Linked DNA regions of Homo sapiens. The protein of the gene in region 3 interacts with the protein of the main gene of each other region in a biochemical or structural test. Each region holds a gene or a part of one and is shown on either strand. Other genes may lie near its edges.

Region 1 (8,258 bases), on a different chromosome or scaffold from region 3:
ATAAAATGAGATAATACATGGAAACGACGCCCTTAGCATCTGCATCCAGCCTCCACACCCACACACGCACAAGAAACCCACTCCCCTTTCCAGGCAAGGCCCGGGCCCCAGGCTGAACCTGCCCCTGCCGGAGCCCCTGCTGTTTCCCAGGTGCAGCCAGGCCCTGCACCTTCGTCCTCAGGGGTTAAAAATAGCACAGGCAGCTTAGCTGAGCTCGGTTAATAAAATATCCAAGTTAATTTTAGCATTAGGGGAATCTAGGATCTCTGATGCCAAGGCCCATGTGTGGCCACACAGCCCCTCCTTACACTGTCAGACAGACACGGGGAAAGCCACGGCGTGGCCAGTATCCCTCCCTCACCTTCACAAAACACTTCTCTTACCTGAGTGAGCCCTAGCCCTCTGAAGACACTGTTGCTACTTTCTCTTATTAAACAGACCATCACCTAATTTGATGCCTGTAACAGCCCTGTGACCAGCGGCCTCCACCTCCCGTGAGGGAGTCCATCAGGCTGAGAGTGTCAGCTGCCACTTCTAGCAGAGCTGGGCCCGGAGCCCTTACCTTCTAGCCCAGGAGCTGGGGCCAGGGAGGCACAGTCCAGGGGACCCTCCAGGCACCCCACTTGTCATTCTCCCTATTCTCACCCGGTGCCACCTCCTCCTGCTTCAGGTGGGATTCTGTTTGTGATCAGGAGAGGGATAGCTGGGGCTGGAGGCCGGCAGCCCCTGGCCCTCACTGCCCCACAGGCCTGCAGGCACCAGCGGTTCAATGTTGGGCCAGACCGGCCGTGGGTCTTCTTCACGGACAAGCTCCAGCCTCACAGGAAGGGAGCAAGAGCCCAGCGGAGCCACAGGCACTGAGCCCAGAGGAGAAAGAAGGGAGCGACCAGAGAGCCACAGGAAGCCCCAGCGGGGAGCCCACGGCAGGCCCGGCCTCCCACGGACGGCATTCCCGGACGCTGACCGCCTCCAGCTCGACGGCAGGGTCACCGCGGTGCGAGAGCCTTTCCCGCCCTGGACCGCGGGGCTGGCTTTTTTTTTTTCTGTAACAGATTGAGAGAAACACCTTGTGTGTTGCTCTTTATTGAACACATGTATCAAGATAAGGCGCCACATTTAAAAACAAGCAGTAAGTATTGTGGAAACGGAAGACATCACTGCGAGGGGAGGAGGCACTGCACGCCTTGGGGGCGGGGGCCCCAAAACAACGCCGTGGCCGTGGCGGAAGTGCCCTCCCTGTGGGTCCCTGACTCATGGAAAGTCCGAAGCACAGGCTTCCTCAAAGCAGCGATCGCATAGGAAGTGTGGCTCAGTCATGCATGATACACAGACTCTACTGTGAAAGGTTAATGACTGTTTCAAAAGACACAGTGTTTAAGATGTTTAAGTGCACAGAAGGACATATCCAAAATGATTCCACAAAACTGAAATGCAGAAAGCCAGATTCTTCAAGACAAAGACTCCAAATTGTTACCACCAAAGCACCTCACTTCTACGTGGCGCTCTCCTCTTATTACCTCACCTGCAAGAGCTGGAAGGACAAAGAAAGAGGAAGGGGGAAAGGAGGAAGAGATTCTTTCCATTTTTCCCAATGTCAACGTCTGAATGAGGCCACACACCACCACACATTTCAAAGCTATTTAAGAATTTAAATGGCCAATGCCCCTATACCTTAAAAAAAGCTCCCAATCCCCCCAGAAATGTGCTGGCTTTTTTTCTTAGTAAGAGTAGTAGCAGAATTGCTTATGGTATAACTTTAGGGACAATTCTTGTTCTGGGAGTGAGGGGGCAGGGTGTTAACTTAACCCTGAACAACACTGCCTTGTACGTTCCCACCGGATGTAGTAGACAATAATTGCCTGGCTTTTGCAAACGGAAAAATGAGGTTATGAAGGGGAAGACACGGGCCCTGGGTCATGCAGCAAGTCACTGGCAGACTCATGGGCAAATCCAGCGCTCCTGGAGACAAGGCTCAGAGGTGAATGACAGCGAGGGGCCCTCAAATCAACCACAGGGGCACCATCTTGTCTGAGCCTTCAAGACCAGGGACTCAGGCAGGGCAAGTCAGAGCCAAGGTTGGCCATGAATGTGGATTAAAGAAAGAGCCTGAGGGGCTCAGTGGCCCCCTGGCACCAGCGCCGCTCAGGGTCATCCTCCACTTCGCTTCTACAGATGGGCTTTCTGCTGGAGCCCCGGGGTATCAGGCCAGCAGCACAGTTACATGAGACTAACCCCAAACCAGCGCACCCACAGGTCACCCTCAGGGTCTCCAGCCCAGACTGCATCTCTGCTCAAATGCAGGAGGTGCCCTGTCTCCCCAGCTACTTGGGGCACAGATACCCCTCAGGCAGCCAGCCCTGCAGGTGACCTCTGGAGGGGAGAGGAAACGGGGACTTCTTGCTGGAGCCACATCCAGAGAGTCGGGCAGCTGGCATTTGGGCCTCTCTACCCGTCCTCACTGCTGCTGCCCCTGGGAGGGTCAAAGGTTCAGATGATATCCAGGCCCCACGTGGGATTAGCAGCCTAAGCCTCAGCTGAGCCAGGGTTTCACTGGCTTGTTTAAAGTGGAGCACAGAGCCTGACCAAGTTGTGGCATCTCCAAACCTCCTTCTCTCCGAGGGATCCTCCAGGGTGCCTGACCCCCACGCCTGTCGGAAGTGGGGCCGAGTGCCCGCAGGCCGGTGAAGCTGCCTTCTGGGAGACTCAGGGTCTGAGTATCTGGTCTGAGACTCTGGTCTTCCCTCGCCCTCCTGTTCTACTTCCCATGCCTTCTGTAAAGTCCTGCCGTGGCCTGAAGTGTAGCCCTTCCTGGAGTACACAGCGAGCATGCTGTGCCGGCTGTGGGCCCCCCACCCCCGAGCCGCAAAGCCCCAGGCCGCCTCTGCCTGCTGCCTGGAGACCTGGCACTGCCCCACAGGGGCACCCACCTCCAGCCCTCCTGCCCCCGTGACTGAGGAAGCCCAGTGCTTCTCACACTCCTCAGACTCGCTGGCTGAGCCAAGCAGCCTTGGCTGAAGGAAAGAGCAGCAAACTGACCCCCACGGGCCGCGACCTTTCCCCACCCAGGCAAGGCGACCTCAGGCACTTCAGGGAGCGCCAGCTCTGGCTTTCTTGTATGAAAGTGACAGCGGATTTAAACCACATTAACAAAAGAAATCCCTCCTCTCTGGACTACTCAAAGCGGAAGTGCTGCCACATCCTAGCTGCAGCGCTTCTGGGCCAAATATCAAGACAGTGTCTCAGCGATGATCCGCAAACCAAAATAAAGCCGACAGGAAACAGCCCGCTGGTTTAGGGGAGCTGGAATGCCTCCGGCAGCATCAAATGTCATCAACAACTGACACTCAGCCCGTTCCCGGAGGCCTCTTCACACGGGAAGAGGCCGGCTGCGAAGTGCGGCTCAGTGGGGGAGAAGGACCGTGGGGACCGCGACACTGCAGGCCCTGGAAGCCTCTCCAGCCTGAACCGCGCTGTGGTCCAGCACACTCATGGCATGAATATGGAACAGTCACTCCAGGAAACGGTCTTGCTCTGGGGGAGGGGGAGGACTTCCACATCACTCTCCCAAGATAAAACAACCAGGGAAAAGCAGATCCCTCCAGATAAACCAGAAGTCCAGACACAGCCTCCTCTCCGGAAACGCCTCCGGGAGCCCACTTCAGAAGCTGCTGAAGCCCAGAGAAAAACCGCAGCCTCGCAGGCCCTGGTCGCCACCAGCTCGCCCGCCACTTCTCAGTGGAAAGGGACGTGGTGCCGATGGGTCCGGGGTCTCCCCGCCCCGCGGGAGCCCTCAGCCAGAACGCCCCACCAGCACACACGCACACATGCACACACACAAACGCGCGCACACACACGCGCCCACACACAAATACACACGCGCGCACACATGCATCCACACACAAATACGCACCCACACATGCACCCACAAACGCACGCGCACACACACCGCCCACACATGGACACACAAACACAAGCACACACAAACACGCGCGCACGCAGGCACAGACGCGCGCGCACAGCAGCAGCAGCGCGCCGGGGCCTCACGCCCCTGGGGAGAAGCGTGAAGGAGCCTCCACATTCCCCGGAAAGGAAGTTTCTGGGCGCAGCGGAGAAAGGGAGATGCCGAGACCCCGACGTCAGTGGATTTGACACCTGAAGTGCAGGCGCCCAGACAGCCTCAGGCGCGCGCACTCCTGCAAACACGCGGGGCACACGCTCGGGCGCACACGCGGACAGACGTCCCTCGGCGCAGGGACCCCACCTCCTCCGCCGCTACCAGGGACCGGGGCCGCTCCGGGCGCAGAGGAGGCGCAGGGAGCCGCGTTACCCCGGAGCCGACTCGACCCAGCCCGAGGCCCGGGGAGGCGGGGAGGTGGGGAGGGGCCGCGGAGCCGGACCAGCCGTTCTCCGGGGAGCGCGCCGCGCCTGGAGGGCGTCTCCGCCGGGGTCCCCAGCAAGGATCTGCGGAGGGGAGGCGGGCGCGGGAGAGGACAGGGTCGGGCCGGGGGGTCGGACGCGTGGCTGCCGGCGGACACTCACCGATCTTGATCTTCACGCTCTGGAAGACCCGGAGCCCCTCGTCCTCCACCGCCATGCTGCGCGTCCGCGCCCGCCGAGCCTCGCCCCAAGCGCGCGCCGAGCCCGGGCAGCTCAGGCCGAGCAGGAGGAGCGGCGGCGCCGGAGCCCCGAGCGCGGCCGAGGGTCCGCCCGCCTGCAAGACCGCCAGTTGGCCGAGGGCGAGGGCGGGGACCGGGAGGCTCCGCCCGCGGCCCGGCCCCTGCTCCCAACTGGCCCGGGCCCTGCAGGGGCGGGGTTGGCAGGGACGGCGCTGGCGGGTGGCGGAGACCCGGGGGGCGCAGGGATCGGCTTCCCCCGAGGCCTCGGCCCCCGCCCCCGCCCCGCGGATTGGCCGCTGAGCGGAAGGGACCCCAGCGGGCTGCCTGGCGGAAGAGACGAAGGAAGGTCGCCGGCGCGGCCCGGGCCCGCTGAGCGAGGCTGAGCGATTGACTCGCGGACGAACTTTGCCAAGAGAAGTTCACGTACAACGATCTGGCAGGGGAGGAATCCCGCGCCCAGCCCCAGCTCCTGAGATGCGATCCGAAGGCACCTGCTGCAGACGCACGAGGGGGGCGGGGACACATACACGCACACACAGCCCCCCACCCCAGACCTCCGGCATGGGCAGGTCCCCCCCCCAAGTCCCCCTGCAGACCCCAGCATGGGCAGGTCTCCCCCCCCCCAGTCCCCCTGCAGACCCCGGCATGGGCAGGTCTCCCCCCCCCAGTCCCCCTGCAGACCCCGGCATGGGCAGGTCTCCCCCCCCAGTCCCCCTGCAGACCCCGGCATGGGCAGGTCCCCCCCAGTCCCCCTGCAGACCCCGGCATGGGCAGGTCCCCCCCCAGTCCCCCTGCAGACCCCGGCACGGGCAGGTCCCCCCCCAGTCCCCCTGCAGACCCCGGCACCGGCAGGTCTCCCCCACCCAGTCCCCCTGCAGACCCCAGCATGAGCAGGTCCCCCCCCAGTCCCCCTGCAGACCCCAGCATGAGCAGGTCCCCCCCCCAAGTCCCCCTGCAGACCCCAGCATGGGCAGGTCCCCCCCCAGTCCCCTGCAGACCCCGGCATGGGCAGGTCCCCCCCCAGTCCCCCTGCAGACCCCGGCATGGGCAGGTCCCCCCCCCAAGTCCCCCTGCAGACCCCGGCATGGGCAGGTCCCCCCCCAGTTCCCCTGCAGACCCCGGCATGGGCAGGTCCCCCCCCAGTCCCCCTGCAGACCCCGGCATGAGCAGGTCCCCCCCCAGTCCCCCTGCAGACCCCGGCATGAGCAGGTCCCCCCCCCAAGTCCCCCTGCAGACCCCGGCATGGGCAGGTCCCCCCCCAAGTCCCCTTGCAGACCCCAGCATGGGCAGGTCCCCCCCCAAGTCCCCCTGCAGACCCCGGCATGGGCAGGTCCCCCCCCAGTCCCCCTGCAGACCCCAGCATGGGCAGGTACCACCCTTACCTCCCTTTCTTCTGTCTCGAGGTCTCCTCCTCCCTGACCTCCTCTCTGAGGAGTATGTTTGTGTGTGTGTATGAACTGTAGGTGTGTATATGAACTGAGACTACACTCCCTCCTCTATGTTGCAAAACTTCATTGCACCCAGTGCCACACACACACCCTACACATATATACACACATACATATACCACACATACACTACATATACATATACATACACATAGACACCACACACAGACACCACACACATACTACACACGTGTACACACATACATATACACACATATACACACACCCTACATACACACACCACATATACACATGAACACATATGTTCATATACACACAACACAGACAGCACACACATATACTACCCATACACATGCACAGACATACACACTAAACATACATACACACACCTACGTGAACATACACAAACACACACACACTGCATGGAGAGGAACAGGAGCTTCATGAAGATAGAGGCCTATTTTTTTCCACTGCTTACCTTCACTTCCTAAAAAGCAGTTCCATGCGTTGAAAGAATGAATGGCCTTTCTTCCCCTGACTGCTGGGAGCCTGCAGCCACAGGGGCCTCTCTCATCCTCAGCCCTTGCAAGCCTGGTGCTCACTGGGGCAGAACAGGAGGTTAAGGCGGCACCCCTGGTTCCAACCCAGAGCCTCTGCGTCTAGCGCTGGCCCTGGGTGGCGTCTGCAGTGGGTGCTGTGGACGCCATCCACACCCCTGCTTTACGACGGAGACTATGCTTCCGTTTGGAGCCACTGGAAGCAAGCCGGCTCCTGTGTTTCTCCGAGGACCAGTGGAGTCCTCTGTGGCAGCCCAGCCACAAAGCTGCTTCTCTGCCATCCCTCCACCCTCACAGGCCTGCTGATAAACTCAACGCGGATCTCGCTTTGGTGTTTGTTTCCAGGCGACAGCTGGGGTCAGGAGTGAATCTCCAGACTGCAGCAGTGGCAGCCAGGACGGGAGCCCCTTGGAAGGAAATGCACTGGCAGCGGCAGGATCTCGGGTGCTGGAGAGTTCGGGAAAGTCACAGATACATGGACTATGGAATCAGGTGGCTCGTGTTGAGGGCAAGATAATGAAAAGATCACCACCTGAAACAAAAGGGTGGCACGCTAACGGGCCTCCTCAGTGCCACATAAGACACTCATCTCCTGTGACCAGAGGAAAACCAAAACACTGGATCAGGGCCAGGACTTAACCGTGTAGAAGGCAGAGCTCCAGAGAAGGCCAGGTGCTTGGCCTCAGAAGGTGTTGTTCCAGGTTCGGGTGCTCGGCCTCGGAAGGTGCTGTTCCAAGCTCTGGACCCTGACTGGGAAGAAGAGAGGCCCTGACTGGGAAGAAGAGAGGCTTGCGATGGGGCCATCTGAATGAATGCACTCAAAAATCTTGAATCCCAGATTCCTCTAAATCTGCTGGGCCTGAAGAGGTGTCACATTTCTGTCTGTTAAGGACAAATGCTGTTTCTGTGCTTGAAGACACTGCAGAGACCTCTGCAAGGCGACACGCCTGCCACCCACCTCCAGCTCAGCTCCTCCAGGTCAGCATCATCAAGCTGGAGAAGTGCTGAGGCTAAAAACTGAGGAAGAGACAGTCGGCCAAGGAGCTTCAGGACCAAAATGCATGCACCAGCATGAGCCAGGGGTAAATGCAGAACTAGATCCAAAGAACGTTGGATTCAGGGGAGGCAGAATGTAGAGTTAGATGTTAGAATTCATTGACATGGGCGCATTCAGTCATGATACAGGGTTTAGCCCCTGGGAGGTGCTCCGTGCTGCTAGGGTGGCGTTTTCAACTCGTAAAGTAAAGCAATGTCCCACATTAAGCAGCTGTCTGTCAGGATTGGAAAAGGCACTCCTGGGGTCCAGGCTCACTGCACCGGCTGGTGGCCCAGGCCCAGACGTCAGCAGGGCTGGAGCAGGGCTTCTCTGGTGCTCCTGCTGGCGGCTGAGGTGCACAGTCACCCTCACCTCCCGGCAAATGAGCACTCCTCTCCCAGTCATGATGGAGAAAACACGCATCTCCCTGACTCACTCCTTAACCCAGCCGCAAACTTCACTGGGTTAGCCTCGGTCCATTTCACTCCTACATCTCGAAACTGTGGTCGTCTTTACGATACCACAAGAACCTGGGGGGCGGACAGTCCCAGAGAAAAAGTTTGTGCTGCACAAATGGATGCTGGGCATGACCAGAGTGCCCCACAGACGGTCGACTCAGACCCCACGTGCATCTCTCCCC
Region 2 (7,630 bases), on a different chromosome or scaffold from region 3:
TGCCAGGTGTATTTAGAGGAAAAGGCATGAAGGAAGCCACAGGCTTATACATTCATTTTTAGTGCATATTTCTTTTTGTTCATTTTCATCCTATTGAGTTCCTTTGTCATTTCTCTGACTTGCAAATTATACCCTTCTGTTTAATAGTAATGATGAAAATAGCTGCTGTTTATTGAGAACTGGTATACCAGGCCTGCAGTCAGCTCTTCACGTGTATTTTTAAAGTGGATTCTTGCCGCAACCCCTTGAGTATTATTATCATTATTTCAACTTTGTTAACAAGGAAACTGAGTCGCAGGTCAAATGACCGACACAGGGCCAGACTGAGTGAAAATGAAATCTACGCTTTTGCTTCTCTGCAAAGTATGCCTTATCCATGTGCAATACAAGCTTTGGCTCAAAACATTTCTGCTATCATTTCCTTTGGAGGAAGATGCTGAATTTGGATGGTTTTAAATGCACAGAACACAGTTATTTTCTGAACCTGCCCTGACGTTTTTTGCCACTGTCGTTTGAAATGGGGAAACAAAATCATATTAAATATTCAGGAACACAAATACAAACCTCTGTGAGCCATGACCCTTAACCGGTTGGGTATGGTTCTGTAAAGGAAAATGACGGTTTATTTAAGGGCTAATTTGATTTATTCCTTCGATACTAACACTACGCATTTCAGGTCCTAAAAAGAGTCAATAAATTTACCGGCAGTGGAGAGGCCCTAAAACATTACGGTAGGCGCAGCCCAAGTCAAGTTTACCGGAAGGTGCTGGATCGCTATGGGTGGGTGTTGTTTCGGGTTAGATTTTAAACATTTGGAGAGCAAAGAATAATTTGGAACAGGTGGTGCCGAGAGTCAGGTAGCTGGAATGATTTATCTTTGCCTCTTTGAACGTTAAGGGAGGCCACTGGTTGCCTGAATCTGGAACCAGCAGGCTGCGGGTCAGTGGGGGCTGAGAGACTCGTCTTTGGGACAAACTTTGGCAGGATCCAGGGGCTTCGTCAGCGCTGTCATCGCCTTTGGATGATAGTAGTCAGAACACAGTTGTGCCTGCTCGTGCATTTTTGAAAAGTCTGCCTCTGCCTTCAGATATATGCAGAAATCTAAAACAGGAACTTAGACGCGCCGCAATGCCAATTTAAACATCTTTAAAAATGAACAAAGTATGTAATAGAGGTTAGAAACTCTTTTGTCATTTGGTATCAATAGTGTTGTGTCAGTAACATGAAAATGTGTGTAATTTCAATGGCATTGCACTTTCTTCTTCTTTTTTCCTTTTGAGTATCTAGTAAAGTTACATTTTTTAAAAGTCTGTGTTCCCAGATGTAATAGATACGAACGTATCTACTTGCAGTCATTCAGAGGAGAATTGTCAACTCTCTGCTAATGTAACTAAAGGAAAAATGATAAAATCAACATATTTTTCCCCAAAGAATGAGGAACTGGAGGGTTTGACTACTGTATATGGCAACTTACTTTTGTCTCGCGTCAGCTAAATCTGTCAGTTCCCCTTTCTTTTCTATTCATCTCCCAAGAATGGCCTTTCATAACTGAAATACACGTGTATTAGCCAAAAGACATTTTAATTTTGTAAAGAAAAATCATGCCAGAGACAGCCGGGTCTGTTTCAACCATTATTGTTTCTGCAGCATGCATACTTTGGGTTTCATGGTAAGATGTGGGTTTGTCAAGAAAGAAAATTACAGCAAGAAGCTATGCTGAAAACATATACACTTCTGTTTAAGAAATGAGAAAAACACAGAAAAATTCCACACAGTAATTGCTTTTACGTGAGTTTTAAATGTCATTGTTTGACTTATGTCAAAAAGCCCCCTTAGCCAGTTCTCTCATACTCCGTTACCAAATATCTCACCTTAAAAACAGCAAATGTTGGACTTCATTTTGATGATCTTTGAGGCTTTCAGAGATATCCTTAGTCCTAGTGGAAACATTCCAAATTTTTAGATTGTGCAGGCCATTTTTTTAAGGTTACTTAGATATCGATTTTATTTTCTTGACCCAAAATGAGAAAACACGGGGAATTCTCAAAAGCTTTTTACAGGCTGCTATTACGAGAAGAGAAGCCAAACCAACATGTATTAGGTCATGCGCTTGAAGTGCATAAATAAGCCCTATGAAGGTCACCAAACAGGGTGAAAACCACTAGTTCTCGTTACCTTGGCCACCTCTAAATTCCTGCCTGTTAGACGTGTTTGGTTGAAGTGGACACAGAAAGCGGGTTTCCGAGCCCGTGGTTGAAAGATCTCAATTTGACTTGGGTCCTCAAGGCGTCCTTGTGGTAAAGGGAGATAGGAAGGCTGAAATTCTGGTCTCCTCCCCATGGCTCCCTCTCACGGTTCCGGAGAAAAAGCAGGTACTGGGGCCTTCTCTTACTCCAAAGCAGATGTTTCCTACCTGGTATTCGGATATGCGGAAGTCAGAAGCTGAAAATAAAATGAAATGAAAATGTTCCTTCTGGTCAGTTTCTTCACCTCCCATTCCCTTCCTATAGTCACTTTGTGGTTAAGGTATTCATGGTTTCCAAAACAATTTTTTGTTCCCACTATGTTTTCTAGCATTTAAGATGCAAGGTATAAGTACTCACCTTTAAATCTCTATTGATTGGCAGCTTCCTGAAATACAGAGTCAGAGAGCGTGTCCACCACGTCCTGAGTTTGGTACCAACCCAGGTGCTGATGGAAATTCCAAGTAGGGAGAAAACGTCCTCTTCGGAGAGGCAGGGTGTCAGCGCAAAGAGGTTATTTTCTTTTGTGGGTGTGTATTATTTGCACATATCAGGACTTTTGTTTCAGGGTGTTCTAGAAACATTGATCTCTCCAGCAAAGTTCTGCGTGTCCTTCTTGGTTGGGAAGGGAGCGGAGAGGAAGGAGCCCCGAGGAGAATCGTGCACCTTTGGCCTTTTGTGTGACTCCTAGAGTAGAGGGAAGCCTCCGCTGCTCGGAAGGTGTCACGTGGTATAACAAGTTGTGACTTGTGCCTGTGTTGTCAACAGAGTTTTAGCCCCGTCCAGACATGAAAAAGAATGGAGCCCCGAAGATGATTCACCTCCGGTCTGCGATGGGCCCAAGCTGTCCAGTGCTCTCCTCTTGCTAAACAGACCATACTCCCTGGAGGAGTTAATGGCTGGGGTGTGGAGAGAAGACCGGTAGGAGGGGAGAAAGAATGCCTTAAACTCAGCAAATGTCTAAAACGCTCAAAATGTCTCAGCATTGCTCAGGCACCCACAAGAAAGACAAACTGATAAAAGGACATAGAATCAGGCTTTTTTTGAGGGGGAAGCACAGAGAGGTTGGGGGTTTGCTAGAGGTTTGATCTAGAGTGGACAATTTTTCTAACACCTTGGGACCCGATTTTGGAAATGTCTTCCTGTAGCCTTGCTGTCATTCCTTTGTGCTTATTTTTAGTGAATTAGTTTTGGGGATTTTCTTTTGTTTTTAAGAAAACACAGAGTTGTAAGACTTGTTTGGGAATCACAGGTTTTATTGAACACTTATTATTTATTGAATATTTATTATGTCCCAGGCATTGTGCTGTGGAAATACTTTATATGTTTTGTCTCCAAATGGCAGTAGATGGAACGTGCTGTTATTATTATTTCTATTTTACAGATGTGGAAACTGAGTCTGGAGAGTAACTTGTCCAGGATCACATGGCTTATGCCAGAGCCAGGATTAAACCCAGTTTTGATTCCTAACCACTAGGATGTCCAGCCTGCTCCCGTGGTATAACAAGAACTTCCCTTTCTCCATCTGTCTGCCCTGGAGAGCTAGATTTTAAAGTCCTTTTCCACTTGCATTGCCTTATGGATATTTATCGATGGTTAGGTACAAAAATCAGGTTGAGAAAGTAAGAGACGCCAGCAGATTCTCACAAGATTTTGAATCTGCCCTTGTAGAAATGAATGAATGTTTCAAGCTGGACCTATGGAAATGGTCGTAGCATCACTGCAGTTAGTGGCCTAAGTCATTGCTTACAGCTGCTCTTGCCCTATAACCGCAGGGTTGAACAGCCGTACTACAAAGACCATACGGCCTGCAAAGACTATCTGGCCCTTTACAGAAAAAGTTTGCTGACCTCTAAGCTATTGCAATATGACAAGACAATCCTTGTAGACCAGAAATAACATGCACTTGGGACATTTCGTATACCATTTCAATGATTTATTATTTATCAGGTGCCTCCAATGTGCTTGACACATTGCACAGTGATAGGGGAAAATTACAAGTGACTTCATTCCTTCATCCATTTACTTAACAACACTTATTTAGCTGTGTTCTGGGCTGTTTACTGGAGAGCCAGAGGTGAGAAGGACCAAATCCAGCATCTCCGGTAGGAGGATCCCAATGTGTTCTCACCAGTATCCCATGGCCTCTTCTTTCCTGAGGGTGCAGAGGGTGTTGACATGACTTTTTGAGCTTTCTAATGTTTGAGCAGCAGAATGGAAGCAACACCTCAGTCTGTAGACCCTCACCCACAGAAGCTATGCCTGGTTCAGTAAGAGCAGTGCCTCGGCTTCTGCACCTGAAACCGCACTAGGCATATAGGACTTACCAGTGCCCCAGGCTTACTCGGCCGACAGCAACTCTCTGCTTCCCTCAATGCGTTGTGCAGAATGAGGAGGAATGTAGAGAATCAGACTTTCCAAACCTCAGCCTGGGTACTGACTTTCAGCCTCGAGATTAAGAGCTTGAGTCCAGGAGCCAGGCTGCTCAGGTTACACTTCCCCTCAGTGTTAACCTACTCCTGCGTTTAACTTGGGGGTAAGTTACCAGACTTTTCGGTGCCTCAGTTTCTTCGTCTGTAAAGCAGGGTGAATAATAATGCACCTTCCTCAGAAAGCTATCGTGGAGATTGAGTTAATAAACATGAAGTGTTTGGAACTACGGCTGGCAAGTGGTATGAATTATATCAGTGTCAGCTACAGTTATTATTATTATTTATGAATTTGACCTGAAGCAAATTACTTAGACTCTTTGGGATGATAATAATAATAGTAACAACAATAATAAAATAACTTTTCATAGTGCCATTGTGAGAATATAAATGAGGCGATACATGGAAAACACTTAGCTTTGCTACACTGCCTGCCTCCATTCAATGTTCAATGAGCTAGCTATTGAGATTATGGGGAACAGTGCACTGGATCAGTGCGGTGTCTATAAGCTATTGATCAGTTGAGTCATTTTAGGTATCGAGAGAATGTTGGGCAGTGGTCGATAGCACAGGCCCTGGACTCAGACAGATCTGGCCTGAGCCTGAGTCAGTCCATCACTCACGGACTGCCATCTCCAGCAGGGGTCTGACCCTCTCAACGTCCCAGACATCGGAGACAGCAGTTAACTGTTCCTGGGGTGGTTGGGAGGCTTAAAAGAGTGGCTGGCACACCGAGCACAGAGCAGGGTGTTTGGCACATAGTAAGCACTCAATAAATGGTAGCTTGTATTATTACCACCCCCATTTCTTGCTGTACCCCCACCCCCAAGAAAGCACTGAACATTAGTAAATTTTAATTTGAAAATAAAAGAACACATTTTAAAACTGCCAAACAGATTTAAAATAATATTCATTACACAAAATTAAAATATTCTATTAAAGCCAGACTTTGGGCTCAGACCAAATTTTTATAACCCAAGCTTAAAGGCCAGGGAGTCCCCCAGCCACAATGGGGACATTGTGATTGAACTTGAGACTTCAACGCTGCTATTGAGCAGTCTTTGAAATGCATGTTTCCCCTAAAATAAAAGGGAAGTAATGGGAAGGAAAAAAATGAGGTTCTTGCTCCCCTCAACAAGCCTTAATGAATTGGAAAAGAAAAACAAAATATTTCTCATTTTTCTCCTGCTACTCGATCCTGCCAAAGACGCACGGCCCCTCCCAACCCTGGCTTTGAATGGTGCCCACTCAGAACCTTCCAGATCTGATATGCTATATGAGCAAACCTAATCTAAGTTGTAACATTGTAGTCTTCACCAGGTTTTACAGATGGCGGATTGTATCACTGGGAATCCAGAATGGGGAGCCCAAATTCCTAGGTTCAAGTCCTAGTTCTGCCTCAGTTTCCCTATTCACAAAATAGAGACAGTCCTCCTACTGCATAAAGTGGTGGTGGGAGTCTGAACGGTTAGCTCTCCCCATGGATGTTTTAATCTTCTGCTGTTACCTAATGAATGAAACTTGCCCTGAGTTCTGGGACTTTGAAAAATTAAAGTATACAGGTATGCCTCTGAGAGTTATAAATTAAAAAAAAGTCTATTCAGGGAGGAGAATGGAGGAGGGAAGAAGGAGACATAAAAATGGCTCACAGGAGTTATTATGTGACAGACACTTTCACAAAGCTCATTTAATCCTCTCAAAAAAAAAAAATACATGATATACATGTGTCCATTTAACAAACATGGAAACTGAGACTTGGACAGATCGAGTGACTGCCCAGCGGCATTCCATTCCAGGTCTGTGTGACCCAAAGCATGGGCCTGTTGTACCACATGACCCACAGCCCTCCTGGAACAAGGTCACAAACAATCATGGTGGACTGGAGAGACTCCCCTGACCAACCAGTTATTTATGATCTATTCTTACATTTCAATAGCATCCTTCATCCTCAATGAGCCTGAGTTGCTGTGGCCTTTTACCCCACATTCCATTGAGAACCAGTAGATTTTTTCTTGAACAGCACATGGAAAAAGTAACGTAAGTGGGTTGCAAAATCCTTTTCTGGATGAAATCCTTCAAGAATCCCTGCCATTTCTTGCCAACCGGAATGAAGTGACTTCCTCCTCAGACCAGGCCAGGCCCTTGGCTATGGTGTGGGACCATGAGACAGAGTTGTCTGAGGCTGGGCAGCTCCTGGAGAGGGTATGGGGTCCCCTCTATCACCAACCTGCTGTGTGTCTTCGGGCAGATCACAAGAGCCCTCTGAGCCCCAATCTCCTCATCAGCCCATGGAGCAGACACCTTCTATATAGGATTTGTTATACGACTTAAATAAAATGACAGTGGAATACTTAGGGTACTGTGGAATTGGACCCATTCCCAGGAGTACTCAAAGAAAGGGGAGAAAATGAAAGTTACTTGCCCCAGGCACATTCCTTACTGTTCTTCAGGTAGCTACCGTTTGGGGACTTTAGACATTCTGGAAGAATCTGTTAGTCTCTGAAGGGCAGACTTCTTTTTAATGATGTGGGCACCCTTTCCACATTAACTTGAAATGTACATGGACATTTTTTTTCTTTAGAGTTCTGTCTCTATCTTATTATGCATTTGGAAAAGATATAAAAAGCATTTGAAACAAATGGTTTTACAATTTTTTACTGCTTAAGACAAAAATGATTTAAAAACCAAGTCCATCAAGTAATTGATAGCAAAAGTGGCACACAGCCATGGCAGAGTTCATGAGGGAAGTTTCAGAAACACGAATCTGATGATGTGAAGCTTTCCCTGTGATCTATTCATTTAAAATAAAACATTTTAGTTTTAAAACTCATCCCCGCAGGCTGCGTACGACAAATTCCACCCAAATACCCAGAACCTTTTACTAACCAGAATTGCAATGCTGTGCTGCTTTCAGGGGAATAAAATGAAACAAATGCAGTCTCTCGGGGACATTGGTAA
Region 3 (7,460 bases):
GATCTGCAGCTCTCCAGGCCCAGCCTGGGGCAACCATCACATGGTAGTATGGCCACCTGTCACTACCCTTCAGGTTTGGCGGCGGCCCTCTGGGGCAGGGAACTTTCTGAATATGTCTTAAGGCCCCTACTGGCCTTTTTAGTCAAGCCAGGACTGCATGCGGCCCACCTGGCTGTGTGGCCTTGGCAACGGACACTCTCAGGCCTTGGTACCTAAGTCGGAAGTCACTTTCTCCTTCCGCGCTAGAGAGGCCGGCCACCCCTCCTGCTCCAGGTGTGGAAGAGCACCTTACAACAGCTCCCTTAGAAGCCTGCCCAGCTGCCCGAGACCCAAGGCTGCAGAGTACTGGAAGGGCGGGGACACACGGGCCCCACATGTATGCTGCCTAGTCCAGGTGGGAGAAATGAAGCTCAGAGCGTGGGGCTCCAGGACGGCCCGGAAAGCTGAGTCAGGGCCCTGACTCAGGTTGAGGACTGAGGTTAGGACCACCATCACCTTGGCACACCTTAGCCCAGGCCTCTGCCCCTGGGAGAGAATACCCATCAGTTCTCGGTATTTTTTTTCTTTCTACATTTTATTATTTCAAACCAGGTGAACAATTCCATAAAACATGTGAAAAAAGCAAGGAAGTGTTCAACGCTGAAGGCCCCGGGCCTGGGACAAGGGCATGAGGGGCGTGGCCCCCCAGCAGGCAGCGGCGGTTCCTAGGTTAGCGCTAGGGAGCTACATTTTAGGTTAATAGAGCCTGGGGCCAGGGCCGCTGGGGCAGGGCCCTCAGTGACGTTGGCAGTTGTCTGGAACAGCCCTTGGAACCCAATTCTGTGGAGGGCAGGGCAGGGGTGCCGCTCGCACGGGGGCGGCCAGCAGAGGGACGGGTGTAAACACGCAGACACACTCAAGGCACGGAGTCACTTGGAAGGGGGGCTGGGGGGGGGCTTGCTGGTCAGGATCTGACAGTTTTAAATAGTTTTTCTCTAAAAAGTTTTCTAGATTTGCAGTTTTTTTTTTTTCCTTTACTTTCATTTTTTTAAAAAGCTACGAGAATGAGCAGGTGGACTGTGGTTTCCAGGAATGGTGGCGTCTCACGCTTCTTGTGCTTTTTCCTTTGGGGCCTCCGAGCGGCTGGGGTTGGGGGACTGGGCAGGAGGCTCCCTGTAAACATTTGGACTTGGGCTGGGGCAGGGGCTGGTGTTGGGCAAAGCTGGGGGTCCAGGCTGGAGAAGCAGGGGCCCCTCCAGACGCAGCCTTGGGAGACTCAGCATGTGCCCCCCTCCCCTCATCACAGAACAAGACAATGGTTAAAAACCAGAACAGATGCCCAGAAGGGGGTACCATGGCCATTACCAGCATCTCAGACAAGGGCAGGCTTCAAACAGGGAGGCCTGTGGCAACCCCTCCCCTACGTCTGGAGCTGAGGGGACAGGGGGAGCTGAGAACAAAGAGAGGAAAGAGGAGAAAAGCGGCGGGGGAACAGGCGGGGAGCGTGATCTTCTTGCCCCCATCTTCCTCAGGGGTTGGGGGGTACAAAGTCGGCGGTGGCCCTGGAGGTGGGGGAAAGCAGAGCATGGATCGGGAAGCAGCCAGGGCGTGCCTCTCTCCCGCCTCCCTAGACAATGACCCTTCTCTATTTTTCCTACCCATTTGTTACCAGGGACACAGTTGCCGCCCAGGAGCCAGTTTCTGTTGCTGGGTTACGTGGGGGAGGGGAGTCTGTGGCACTGGGAGAGTCATCCCCACCTCCACCAGGGCCAGTGGGGCCAGCCTAAGCCCGGGACGCTCAGACAAGTCAGAGGGCAAGAGCTGGAGGTGCACATGGAGCTGGTGGTAGTGGGCAGCAGGGCTGGGCTCCGCTGGCATGCAGCTTCCGGCAGGCTGGGCCAATGGCCTGGTGGGTGAGGAGGTGAGATTTCTCCAGGGAACATCAGGATGGCCTCTGGTTCTGTCCCAGGGCAAGGCCAGGCCCTTCTGTCTGGACCACTGGGCCAGGCCTGCTTGTATGACCTCCTCCATGCCCTGCACCTCACTCACTTGACCTCCTGATTCACACCCTGGGCCTTCTCCTCCCTTGTCCCCTGGTCACCTATTGCCCCTCCCCCTCCAGGTTCACCCCCCTACCCACCCCCAGAACCCCCTGCTGGGGCTCCAGGCCCGCTTAGTTCTTCCCCAGCACCCTGCCACAGCCCCTCTGGCTCACCATCCCGCCAGGCCCCGCTGCCCCTCAGAAGAGGCCGCAGTCCTTCAGGTTGTTCTTGATGATGACATCGGTGACGGCGTCAAACACGAACTGCACGTTCTTGGTGTCGGTGGCGCACGTGAAGTGCGTGTAGATCTCCTTGGTGTCTTTGCGCTTATTCAGGTCCTCAAACTTACTCTGGATGTAGCTGGCTGCCTCATCATATTTGTTGGCCCCTGGGGGAGAGAAAATGAAGACTTGTGCTGCATGTGTGGCAGGCAGGCCGCATCCTACGTGTGCAGCAAGGGTCTGTGCGTGTGGACGGCCAGGCATACAACCTGTGCATGCATGTGCATAATATGACAATGTTTGTGGCTGCCCATACATGCCAGATGTGCAAAGGGGTACCCCACTGTGTGAAGGAGGATGCCCATGTACACATGTTCAGGGGTACATGCTTGAGTGTGTTAAGGGCTTCATGTGTGCACACACAACTATACAAGCCTAAGTGAGGCACCAGCCCCTGCCAGTGTTCCAAGGTTACACTTCTGTCCAGTGGGGGGCGCCTGAGGGCCACCTGGTCACCATAGGCTACTTGGGACAAGAAGCAACCCTCTGGAGGCCCTATCCCCACAGTCCCCACACCTGTGTACTCAGGGAAGCAGATGGTCAGGGGACTGTGTGTGATCTTCTCCTCAAACAGGTCCTTCTTGTTGAGGAAGAGGATGATGGACGTGTCTGTGAACCACTTGTTGTTGCAGATGCTATCGAATAGCTTCATGCTCTCATGCATGCGGTTCTGGGGGTAGAATAGCAAGGTCAACGCTAGCCACCACTCCCCAAGCCCGCTGCCCCCACCCGCAGCATTCTCTCATCCTCTCACCATCTCCTCGTCCTCAGCTAGCACCAAGTCATAGGCGCTCAAGGCTACGCAGAAGATGATGGCTGTGACGCCCTCAAAGCAGTGGATCCACTTCTTCCGCTCAGACCGCTGACCACCCACATCAAACATCCTGCAGATATAGATCACCTTAGTTCCAGGAAGGGAGCCTGGGGGAGGCTTTCTACCCCATTTCTCAGGTTGGCTGACTGAGGACAGAGGCCTGCCCAGAGTAGGGCAGCTACCTTCTGGAATCATCCACACTTGCCCACTTCACCCCTGGTTCTGGGCCAGGAGCTTGGACAGCAGGCAGGCTGCAGCCACATCAGGCAGGAGCAGCAGAGGCTGTGAGCAGCTGGCAGAGGTGGCGTGGATCCTGACTGCTGGTTCACTAGGTGGTGAGGATGTGCTTGCCCAGAACACATGAGCCTTGTAAAACCTCAGTGGGGCTGGGGGATCCTGGACCAGCCCCTGCCTCTGCTACCCCAGAGGCTGGCAGGTCCTGCCCCTCCCACCTGTCCACATGCTCGCTCACTTGAAGTGTAGGTCCTTGAAGGTGAAGTGTGTCTCCACGATCCCCGTGGTCTTTACGCGGGTCCGTAGCACATCTTGCTGTGTGGGGATGTAGTCACTCTGTGCAATACGCTCCAGGTCGTTCAGGTAGCTGGGGATGGGGGGTGGGAGGGTCAGTGGGGGCCAGCATGGGGCTTCCTTAGCTGGACCCTGGGCCAGCTGCAAGAGGCCCCTTCCCTCCCATGCCATTTCTCAAGCACAGCCCTTGCTTTTTTTTTTTTTTTTTTTTTTTTTTTTTGAGACAGAGTGTTACTCTGTTGCCAGGCTGGAGTGCAGTGGCATGATCTTGGCTCACTGCAACCTCTGCCTGCCAGGTTCAAGCGATTCTCCTGCCTCAGCCTCCTGAGTAGCTGGGACTACAGGCGCCTGCCGCCCAGCTAATTTTTGTATTTTTAGTAGAGACGGGGTTTCACCATGTTGGCCAGGATGGTCTTGACCTCTCAACCTCAGGTGATCCGCCCACCTCGGCCTCCCAGAGTGCTGGGATTACAGGCGTGAGCCACTGCGCCTGGCCTAGGCACAGCCCTTGTTTCTTTAACCCCTGCCTGCATTACCTCATTGCTCAAATGAAGAAACCTGAACTCAGAGCCCCCGGCCTCCCACCTGTAGAATGGGAATGGGAGGAGGTGCAGCTCTGTGGACAGCTAGCCAGCCAAGCTCCAGCACCCAGGGTCTGAGCCAGACCTGCCTCGGACAGGATCCAGGATGTTGGAGCTATAGGCAAAGAGGGTGGGAGGAGGCAAATTAGTCCTTCGGTGAAGGATTCAGGATGCTAATGGGCGCAATTACGGCATTAGCCGCAGAGCAGCCGGGTGCGGTCCCTCGATGTGGTGCTGGACAGGTTGGGGCCTGCCAGGTCCAGTGGGCTCTTTGCCCAGCGCCCAATGAAATCTGGGTTCCTCAGGGGGAGGGCACAGACACCTGCTTGGCAGGGGTCCCAGGGGCTCCTCATTACCAGTTCCCTTAATTAGTATCAAGGCTACCCCTGCAGGGCCTGCCTCTGCTGCCTGCCTCAATATCCCTGCCATGCCCTGGAGGCTGGTCCCAGGCCTCCAGGCTGCTGCCCAGAGCTGACTTTTCATTCCTGGGGCAAGGCTGCTGGGGCTGGCCCTTGGCTCCCACCAGCACCCAGGCCAAACCAGGCCAGAGGGAAATGATCTCAGAGTAGCAGGGACAAAACAGAAAAACAGGAAGGGCCATGGGGAAGGATGACGCATGTGCTGTGACCCGCATACCATGCCCCGCCCCCTACTGCCAGAGTCCTCAATGTGGAGGTACCATGGTGCATTCCACACCAGCCTCTCCCTTTTCCCCAACAGGTGGGTTCGCCCCAGGGACCCCCTGACTCGCTGCACACTTGGAGGGTTGCTGCGAAGAGGGGCTGAAGGAGCCCTGCTTCCTGTGGTGTTCCAATCCGCAACCCATTCCCAGGGGGAGCTATCAAGGCTTAAACCTGACTGGGAGAACAGGGCCTGTATTCACTCCCAAAACTGTGCTGGGCACACAGTGGGTGCCTAATGTCTGGAGAATAGAGAAAGAGGATGATGGAGAAGCAGGAGGTGGCCTGGAGGTGGCTCTATTCCTGCTTCCTTTGAGTATCATGGGCACCAAGGTCCCTGCTGCTCTGACCCCAAGCTCGCTGGTGGCTGGGCCAGAGATCTCAGGGAGGGGCAGTGGTGAGGCCTGGGGGCCCCCACAGCATTTGGCTGTGACTCCACAGCTCCTGTAGGGGGTACATATTCACAAGAGCATTCAGGCCATGTAAGAAGGGTAGGAGGAGGCTGTTCATGTGGCTTGGACAGGGCTCAGGAATCACAGCCAGGCAAGACCCTCCTCCTCCTCCCACCCACCCTTGCTGAAATCCACCCTATGGGTAGGCTCAGGATTGGATGAACAATAGGAGCAAAAGGGTGTTCCAGTCAGAGGGGACTGGCTTAAGCAGAGATAGGGGAAGGCTAGAGTACAGGGACAGCAGCCTATCTGGTGACACCATCCAAAGCCTGTGGATGTCCCCTGCAGCCATCCTCAATGGCTATTAGCCTGTCTATCCTGTTCCCCGTGGGGTCCTCAGCACCCTGCACCAGTCCAAGTACATGACAGATACCACAGGGAAGGAGTTCAGAACTGTGGAAAGGGTGCAGGCTTGTCATGCCTCTGGGATTCCTGGGACCCCTTGTAATTCCTCAGCCTAGGGCCAGCGAGGGTCACAGCTGAGGTCCAGGGGCTCTGACCTACACACACACCTGTCACCTCCCAGATAACTTCCTCCCCTGTGGCCCCCTCCAGCCAGCCTCCACAGCCTATGTTCAAGCACAGCCAGCTCCCCACCACCCCGAGATGCTGCACATGCTATGCCCCTGCCTGGAATCCCCTCATCCACTCCTCCCCTGGCTGACTCTCCTTCAGAGCTCAGCAATCCTGTCTCTGGGCCAACTCCACCTCTACCTTTTCACTAACACCCTAAATTGTCACTGCATGGGGACTTTGCTCCACTCATCACTGTGTCCTTGAAGCCTGGCACAGAACAGGTGGCAGCAAATGTTCTGAGTCTTGCTCTGTCACCCAAGCTAGAGTGCAGTGGCGCAATCTCCGCTCACTGCAAGCTCCACCTCCCAGGTTCACGCCATTCTCCTGCCTCAGCCTCCTGAGTAGCTGGGACTACAGGCGCCCTCCACCACGCCCGGCTAATTTTTTGTATTTTTAGTAGAGACGGGGTTTCACCGTGTTAGCCAGGATGGTCTCGATCTCCTGATCTCACGACCCGCCTGTCTCAGCCTCCCAAAGTGCTGGGATTACAGGCGTGAGCCACCACGCCCGGCCGCAAATGTTCTTTAGAAGACTGTCAAGACAGATCAGACTCAACTGGCCTGGAAGAGATGTACTGTATAAGCCACCTGCCTGTCATTCCTCCTGGCCTTTCAGTAACGTGACACCCACCCACCCCCCAAACCAAAAAACAGGAAGGCCTTGGTTAACAGTCATCGGTTTCATAAGCAAAGACCAGCAGTGTCCTTCTGGGGGTTCTCAGGCCCTCCGGTCCAGCCTTTAGTCCTCCCCCAGCCCCTGCCCTGCCCTGCCCAGCCCCTCAGAGCACTCACTAGGCAGCTGAGTCGTTGAGCTGGTATTCCCTTGAGCGGCCAAAGCAGGCCTGCACACCATGGTCAGCCCAGAGCCTCCGGATGACGCCGGACAGGTCATCAGGGAGCACGCCTTGCTCCTCGGCGGTGCAGGACAGTGCAAATAGCTGCCTGGCGTCGTCCTGGGCACAGTGGCGGGTGGTCAGGCAGTTGAAGGAATGTACCCCCACTCTGCCAGAGGCAGGGAGACCTCTGGAATGGGGCCCAGGCTAGGGTATTCTTGGATTCCCTAGGATGAGACTTGCCCTAAAACCTTTTTGTTGTTGTTGTTTACTTTTTTCTGTGACGGAGTCTAGCTCTGTCACCAAGGCTAGAGTGCAATGGGGCGATCTTGGCTCACTGCATCCTCTGCCTCCCGGGTTCAAGCAATTCTCCTGCTTCAGCCTCCCAAGTAGCTGGGATTACAGGCACGTGCCACCATGCTCGGCTAATTTTTGTATTTTTAGTAGAGACGCGGTTTCACCAAGTTGGCCAGGCTGGTCCTGACCTCAGGTGATCCACCCGCCTCGGCGTCCCAAAGTGCTGGGATTTATAGGCATGAGCCACCACAACCAGCCACCCCGAAACCTTTTGGGAGGTGGGAGAGGGTGGGGCGGAGGGCACATACCGCTCTGGAGGGGTCGGCAAAGTCGATCTGCAGGTTGCCCATGGCTTTGACAATGGCCATGATGGACTGGATGGTGTTGCTGTAGACAAC
Region 4 (8,342 bases), on a different chromosome or scaffold from region 3:
CTTTTAAAGAAGAAAGATTACAGAATGCTAGGTGAGGATTTTCTGTAGGACTAATCATCCTGCTAAATCTTTCTATGCTTTGAATGAGTAATGAAAGTATGATGAAATTATTATATACTAATTCATTAAGTGAAAGAAATCCTGTCTATATGTTATTGTCAATTGAAATTTTCACCCTCTAATTGATCATCATCCAGTTGTAACTAGACTGGAAACAGAAAAAAAGATTATTAAGCTGGTTAGTAAATATTATTTTTTATAATAGCAGCAATCATTGACATTTCTGTAGTGTCCAAGATTTATTGGTTTCTTATTCATCATCTCATTTAATCCTGACAGAAATCTATTTCTGTTGGAGCTAAAAACATTATCTTCATTTACAGTCGAGGAAGCTGAAAGTCAGAGTGATTAGGAAGCTTAACTAAGATTATACAACCATTTATGTTTTAGGAGAAAACTAAAACTCGAATTTCACTGGAACTCTGGACTAACTTCTAGAAACAAATTCAGTTATATTCTTTTCCAGGGGATGTGCTAAGTTTAGGAATCCACAGATGAAAAGATGTATGTTTCCTTCTAATAAATACTTATATTATAAAGAAATTAATCCCAGTCCTCTTTTTTTGTTGTTGTTGTTTTGTTTTCTTTTCTCCTTCTCTGACTGGTGAGGAGTCTAAAGGGCAGTGCAGTACCAAAATGTTGAATATAAGAGGAGATTTTAAAATAAACACATTTGGGGGACATGAATTATGGAAGCAAGTTTTACACAAGTTATTGTAATTAATCTATAAAGAGCATATCTGAAACTGAACCAAAACAATCGGAGCAAGAAAGTGAGTACGGGGCAAGTTTGACATAGATTTGGCAAGAATTTTAACAATAGTTTAGAAATTGTTGTATACTGGGGCTGGGCATGATGACTCACGCCTGTAATCCCGTCACTTTGGGAGGCCTAGATGGGTGGATCACTTGAGGTCAGGTGTTCGAGACCAATATGCTAAAAATACAAAAATTAGCCAGGTGTGGTGGCCTGTGTCTGTAATCCCAGCTACTCCAGAGGCTGAGGCAGGAGAATCCCTTGAACCCAAGAGGTGGAGGTTGCAATGAGCTGAGATTGTGCCAGTGCACTCCAGCCTAGGCTACAGAGCAAGACTCTGTCTCAAAACACAAAAACAAAACAAAACAAAACAACAAACAAACCAAAAAAACAAAAAAGAAAACAAACAAAAAACAGCAAAAAATGAATTGTCGTATACTGGAAATGAAGAAAAGTGAGTACAGTAGTTGAGGAAGGCTGTTTAAGTTACTTTTCCCAAAAACAGGAAGTGATAGTAGCTAGTCTTAGAGTGAAATATAAGGAATACAAGTTAAACTTTGTCAGCACAAACTTTCTTACCATAACTCTCCATTCTCATTGATTACATCCTTAACTAAGTTTAAGCCTTGATTTCTCTACCTATAAATATTACAGTTCAGAGGCAGCCATCTACTTTCATTGGCAGAGGGAAAGTTTTCAGGTATCATCTACAGATATAGAATTTTTATATCACTAAATTCAGAAGAACATGAAAAGGTCACCAAGACCTTATAAAGAGTTGGACAATTAAGGAAGGGAACAAAACAAAACAAAAATATGTCAGAAAAGAAAAGTTGTTGTTACATTAAATGGAGCATAGTATTTGAGGGTGAATTACAAATATTCCACTCCCAACTGTCCTGGCAACAGGAATCCTTTCTTCCAGTAGACACCTTAAAATTGTGAAAGACACGGGCAACGCTACAAGGAGTAGTTAGAGTAGTCTGGCTAACCTCATCTTGGAAGGGTCTGGGAAGAGCTGGGAAATGATTGTATTTCAAAGACTAAGGTGAGAAACTGGACAAGTTTAAAGTGCAAAAAAAAAAAGCTGTGGGCTTGAGGTGGATGTTTGGTAATGATAAAGCATTGCTTTTTTTGCAGACTCTGACAAGTTCAGGGTGGAGAATAATAAATCTGTGATTACCTAGCTGCATCACCTGCTCAGTTGAGTCTTTCTATCTGAAAGAAAGCATAAAATGAATACAGACAACAAAGTTCACTCACTTGCTACCTTATGTAAATTGACCCTAAAGAGTGGCAATCCAGGGAGCCTGCCTCCTAAGCCATGCTATATTATAACAGTGTTCCAGAGTCAAATGAGGCCTTGATGCTTGTCCTCACCCTCCATCTCACAGACAAAGCTCCACCTTAAATACATACTCGATTCTCAACATTTCTACAAAATTCTGCTTTAAAAATAGACAATTGATATGAAGTACAGAATGAAGAATTTATAAATTTTTTTTAAAACTGTGTTTATGGAGCGGGGCGCAGTGGTTCACGCCTGTAATCCCAGCACTTTGGGAGGCTGAGACGGGTGGATCACCAGGTCAGCAGATTGAGACCATCCTGGCTAACACGGTGAAACCCTGTCTCTACTAAAAATACAAAAAAATTAGCCGGGCGTGGTGGCGGGAGCCTGTAGTCCCAGCTACTCGGGAGGCTGAGGCAGGAGAATGGCCTGAACGGAGGCGGAGCTTGCAGTGAGCCGAGATGGCGCCACTGCACTCCAGCCTGGGCGACAAAGCGAGACTCCGTCTCAAAACAAAAAACAAAAACAAACAAACAAAAAAAACTGTGTTTATGTGGGTTTCCTGTATGTCCATCGAAAGAATTACTTGATATTTTTAATCCTTGAACAATGAAACTAACATGAATAGTTCGTTAATCATGAATTTGATAAAACCGAAGATTTCATTCAAAAATCGGAAAAATTTAAAAACTGAAACTAGCTACAGTATAAATAACTAATATTTCATCCACAGTAGGTAATTCTAAACAAAATGAGAACTTTTAAAAAAATTTCCATTATTTGACTTTTCTATTACTTAGTTCTGTTGATCAGAAAATTGAATTACTGAAAATTAACAATCAGACAAAAATTTTGTGACCTATTGTTTCGGATAATTACATGCATAGTTTGTGTAATTTTCCATTAAGCACACAAAGTATTTGGTGAAAGTACCACTAACCTCTATGGGAAAGCAGTTTGTCAAATGATTCACCCCATTTCACTGCCTCTTCAGGGGAGACTCTGTACAAGAAACAAAATGTTTTATAATGGAGTGTGCAGAAAGTCTGTTTATGAATCTGTTCTAACATATGCTATTTTACTGCTCTTTTCAATTATATTTCACAGTTTCTCCTTTGATTATAATATAATGAAAATTGCATTTACATTAGAAACTTTGAAAACATTGTTCAATTTTCTTTTGGAATTTGTCTGTTGAATAATGTGTTGAAATAACATTATTTTTTTTCTCATGGATATGTGAGTTTTATTTTTTAATTAAAAATTAATCCTTTTTTAGGTTAAAGGGCACAGATAACAAATATAAAGAAATCAGGTCAACTATCTGTTTAAATTCAGCAAGTAGAAAAAAACTAAACTCACAGTATCTTTCAGTTAAAAAAAAATTATACTGCAATTTCCTTGAAGCTGTAACCACACTAGGCTGCAAATTTTTTTTTTAAACGGATACAGGAAGTTTGACTAATAAAGTTTCAAAGGGATAAGAAATATAAGATATTTTAATAGAAAAAATATTCTAGAGATGTTGGTAATGTGGAGAATTGAATATATTTTCTCGGATCTTTTTTATTATACTCTAATTTGGAAGAATTTGTATGAAACTAGTATATAAGGTTTTTGCATTTTCTTTTTGAATTAAATAAATGCTAAGTATTAAAAGACATTATTTGTGCTTTACTTGCTATAATGCGTGTGTTTTTTCAAACTACTGAAGAAAGAGATGAATATCTCTCTGCTATGACAATATTGCATTGTGAAAACTCTTAAATTAATGAGCATTTTATCAGGTTATAAGGAGTAAAACATGTCATTTAAAACTGACAGGTATATAATTTTAAAAGAGCAGCTTTAAGTGTTCACGTGATTATTCAATTCAAGCGATTTAATTCAAGTGATTTAATTTTATGAAATATTTCTAGTCTCTTCAAATGAAATTTCTAACTTTCCTTATATTGCTGTGTAATTTTCAATAAATCAGAAATCCCTAACTGCATTTTTCTTAAATCTTTAATGATAGAATCAGCAAAATCTTCCTCAAAATACTGAAAATTTATTCACCTTGTTTCTTTGGCCAAGTGCCCAGATCTACTGGAGCGGGTGTCTTCATGAAACTCAGGTTTCTGCACAAGAAGACTTAGTCTATTTCTTTTTTCCTTAGCTCTGTAATAAAAAGGCCTTCATGTCAGGACAATTTAGATGACAGTTAAAATCTCTCCTGCTGACTACCAGAAAATTTTGTAGTTGGTAAAAACCCACGCCCACCCATACCCACACACTCATGAATCCCATTTAAATATTGTATTTGTGGAGGAATTAGGGTAACATACGAAAATGTTTCTCCTTTTGCTCACCGACAATCAAGTATTTGAGATTATATTTCAATAAAGATTGCACTAGTTCCTCTATGTGGCTAACATTATTACACTTTTTTTTTAATGAGAACACTTTAGATTTCAGTTTGTTGTTTAAACCTAAGAAATAAAAAGGTGTTTTTTTTTCCCAAATTATAGCAATACAAACAATATATTTTCCACCCAATAGTTCAAAAACAAGAGGTAATGAATCTTCAACCTCAATTATGCTTTTAAAAGTATAAGGCTGACTTAAAATTGTACAATTTTACCTGATTTTGGCTTCTTTGCTTGTTTCTTCTTTTCCTGAACCATGTATTAACTTGAAAAAAGTTTTTTCTTTTGATTCACACATATTTATTTGAGAAAAGAAAAGCAATGTTGTTTCCATCTTCTCTCTAAAATGAAGAGATGTCTAATTTATTACATCCTTCCCTAGTTCATTTATTAATACTATTCCATACATATACATAGTAGAATAAAAAGTTATCACAACTCTTACAGTAATGTTTACAAAAAAGAAGTCAAGAGCTGCGTTTCTTTCTGTCTCTGCAGAAATGCAGAACTGAGGAAATGAAGTACAATTTGGTCCTAAGTTGTTTAGGGAAATGATACCACAAATTTGCAAAATGACTCTTGGTCTCTAAGATAAAGACTAGTCTTACCACAGTGCAACTTCTCGTTCAAGTTTGCGCAACCAGAATGATGCTTTAATAGACTCAAATAACACTGTCATTTCCCACAGGAACTTTTCAAAAAGTTTTTAAATGTGTGGACTGTGTGTTAAAATGTGTTATGGCAAAGTATTATATCAAACATTAGGAGATATTTTCTCCAGTTCTTAAAAAAGTATTTTTCTTATTGTTATTACATGAGTTAAGTAAATCACATTTAACTGACATAAGATTATGTAATGTTAATTACATTGGCTTAACATATTGTAACAAAATAAGACAATAGATCAGAATTTTATGGTTAAAAAAAGATTGTAGAAAGCATTTAATTTAACAGTTTTGGGCTGGGCACAGTAACTCATGCCTGTAATCTGGAGGCTAAGGTGGGCAGATTACCTGAGCTCAGGAGTTCAAGACCAGCCTGGGCAACATGGTGAGACCCCATCTCTACTAAAAATACAAAAAATTACCCAGGCACGGTGGTGTGCACCTACAGTCCCAGCTACTCAGGAGGCAGAGCCAGGAGAATCCCTTGAACCTGGGAGTCGGAGGTTGCAGTGAGCTGAGATCATGCCGGCTACTTCACTTCAGCCTGGGCAACGGAGCAAGACTCTGTCTCAAATAAATAAATAAAGTTTTAAGCACATATCTATAGAATGATTTTAGACATTTTTGAAATTTTTATCAGTCTGTGATGAAATGGAAAAAAATATGAAAAGTTTTTTTTCTTAAAGCTTTATTTTAATTCCTTTGATATAAAGGACTTGCTATTTTGAATTTGCTCTCCTGACTCTTTTGTTGTTAAAATGTTCTTTATAATGTAAAAATGTTCTTTATAATGACATGGATTAAGTAGAGATGGTAGTTTTTATATTTTAATGCCTTTATTAAAAAAAATGTTGACAACTCCAATTGGTTTAGCCTCCACTTCTTTCACTGTTTTATAGAATACAAAAGTCTTACAAATGCAGTTCTAGTCCATAATTCAAATTTTATTGAAAAATAAACCAAAGTTCACAGGCATTAGGTAATTTAATCCTACAAAGTTTCAGAGACAGGCCAGTGGAAAATCTGGAATTATCAGAGCCTTTGATCACCTACTATGTGCTTTAGTCCTTCCAAGAATCTTTGATCTCCAGTAGTGAATGCTTTAATCTAAAATGGTATATATTGAAAGCTGAGTTATACAAACCTAAAAGAAAATTTTATTTTCAGTCTTTTTGAATTATTTTTTTACCAAGACAATTTATCAGGGATACCAGCTAAAAGCTCAAAACATTTATCTATATGAAATTAAAGACTTTCTAGTATATATTTATACATATACCCCCTGATTCCATGACTTGTACTTTGAACATATTTTAAATCTCTCACCTTGGCTGAGAATTGAAAAATATTATGTATGATGGCATTTTGCATTGAGCTTCTGCTGGAAATGGATACTGATAATGCAGATTATGCTTCCACCCTGCTGTCCCCTAGTAATGATTAGTATCCACTGTGTTTATATCAGTTTAATCCTATGAAGGTGAATGAGCACAAGAGAAAATCATAGGAGCATGGACATCATCCAGTCACTAGGACTATAACTTAACTGTTAACTCAGAGAAGTTAAAGACATAAAATCAATATATTATTTTTCATAAGATATGTTAAATTTATGTGTGAAGTGTGCTATACACAATGCTGATAGAACCGTGGAAAAAGAAATTGTGAAAATACGGGCACAAGTTGCCGGGCACGGTGGCTCATACCTGTAATCCCAGCACTTTGGGAGGCTGAGGCAGGTGGATCATGAGGTCAGAAGTTCAAGACCAGCCTGGCCAAGATGGTGAAACCCCATCTCTACTAAAAATACAAAAATTATCCAGGCGTGGAGGCAGGTGCCTGTAATCCCAGCTACTGGGGAGGCTGAGGCAGAGAATTGCTTCAACCCGGGAGTCAGAGGTTGCAGTGAGCCGAGATCATGCCACTGCACTCCAGCCTGGGCGACAGAGTAAGACTCCATCCCCCTCACAAAAAAATAAAAAGAAAAAGAAAAGAAAATATGGGCATAAGTGAACTACTCCACAGGTCTGTGTAAAGTTCTGAAACAGAATTGGAAAAGAGAGGTTTGGCTCTACTCTGCGTATGTGGTCAGTTAGGAGCTGGAACCAGAGAGGAAGAAAAAGGTGGATTCTGAAGGTGACATCAGTTAAATATCATTCTTTTGGGCATGGTCAGTTATTATTTAAATATGTATACTTTTAATGATAAGGATTTATATATATATGTGTGTGTGTGTGTGTATATATATATACCCACGTGTTTCCCTTTTCTAGCTCTCTTCACTCCTTTGTGCAGGCCTGGAATCCTTTTCCATTAGCATAAAGACCTGTCTTCAATATTTTCTGTAGTGCATATCTGCTAACAATAAATATATTCAAGTACTGATTTTCTGAGAAAAATTTTTTTTTGTTTATATTATGAAACGGCTAAATCAAGCAATTTAACATATGTATTATCTCACGTGCTTATTGTTTTATGGTGAGAAAACAAAATATATGATTTTATGAACAATTTTCAAATATATAACATATGAAAAAAGTGTCTTTTTCCCCATCTTCCGTTGGAGAATATTTTCACCAGAAAGAATTATAGGATGATTTTTCTTTTCTTTAGGACTTTAAAAGATTTTACACTTTTGTCTTCTGAACTCCATTATTTCTGTTGAGAAATCAGTGCCAGTTTTCTATGTTCTAATATGTCTTTCTTCTCCTGTGACTACTTTTCAAACGTTTTTATAACTAGTTTTAAAACTTTGATTAAGATATAAATGGTGTTTGTTCTACTTGAAATTTGTTGAGCTTCCTGGTCTTGTGGGCTTTAGTTTTTATCAAAGTTGAAAACTTTTAGGCACTAGTTCTCCATTTTTTTGTTTCTCTTTCTCCTATCTTCAGATATTCCAATTACAGTATGTTTGACTCCTTAACACGGTTCCACTGGTCATTAAGGAACTATTCCATTTTTTTGGCCTCTTTTCTGTCCCTTTCTCAGGTTAGACTGCTTCAATTGCTGTGTCTTCAAGTTCATTAACCTCTTCTTCTCCAATAGCTAGTCTGCTGTTAAACTTGTATAGTAAAATATTCATTTCAGCTACATAAGTTCCATTTTTATAGTTTGCATTTCCTTCCTTATTATATTCTTGTTGGTTTTATATTCAAATACTT

What was found.
Region 1: the proteins of GNAI2 (region 3) and RASA3 form a complex in vitro, tested with the Homo sapiens proteins (one study listed by BioGRID).
Region 2: the proteins of GNAI2 (region 3) and EYA2 form a complex in vitro, tested with the Homo sapiens proteins (one study listed by BioGRID).
Region 4: the proteins of GNAI2 (region 3) and RGS18 form a complex in vitro, tested with the Homo sapiens proteins (one study listed by BioGRID).

The regions. Positions count from the first base shown.
Region 1 is NC_000013.11:114,127,896-114,136,153, forward strand, and holds the start of RASA3 (ras GTPase-activating protein 3), read right to left. Parts: upstream 4,729-8,258; 5' UTR 4,595-4,728; coding exon 4,540-4,594; intron 3,109-4,539; exon of another isoform or gene 1-3,108.
Region 2 is NC_000020.11:46,898,824-46,906,453, forward strand, and holds part of EYA2 (protein phosphatase EYA2), read left to right. Parts: intron 1-1,564; exon of another isoform or gene 1,565-2,442; intron 2,443-2,603; exon of another isoform or gene 2,604-2,925; intron 2,926-7,630. UniProt on the Homo sapiens protein: Functions both as protein phosphatase and as transcriptional coactivator for SIX1, and probably also for SIX2, SIX4 and SIX5.
Region 3 is NC_000003.12:50,252,449-50,259,908, reverse strand, and holds the end of GNAI2 (guanine nucleotide-binding protein G(i) subunit alpha-2), read right to left. Parts: coding exon 7,371-7,460; intron 6,886-7,370; coding exon 6,725-6,885; intron 3,718-6,724; coding exon 3,589-3,717; intron 3,187-3,588; coding exon 3,057-3,186; intron 2,973-3,056; coding exon 2,819-2,972; intron 2,410-2,818; coding exon 2,219-2,409; 3' UTR 2,195-2,218; intron 1,542-2,194; 3' UTR 547-1,541; downstream 1-546. UniProt on the Homo sapiens protein: Guanine nucleotide-binding proteins (G proteins) are involved as modulators or transducers in various transmembrane signaling systems.
Region 4 is NC_000001.11:192,155,146-192,163,487, reverse strand, and holds the start of RGS18 (regulator of G-protein signaling 18), read right to left. Parts: upstream 5,027-8,342; 5' UTR 4,851-5,026; coding exon 4,732-4,850; intron 4,269-4,731; coding exon 4,167-4,268; intron 3,111-4,166; coding exon 3,049-3,110; intron 1-3,048. UniProt on the Homo sapiens protein: Inhibits signal transduction by increasing the GTPase activity of G protein alpha subunits thereby driving them into their inactive GDP-bound form. Binds to G(i) alpha-1, G(i) alpha-2, G(i) alpha-3 and G(q) alpha.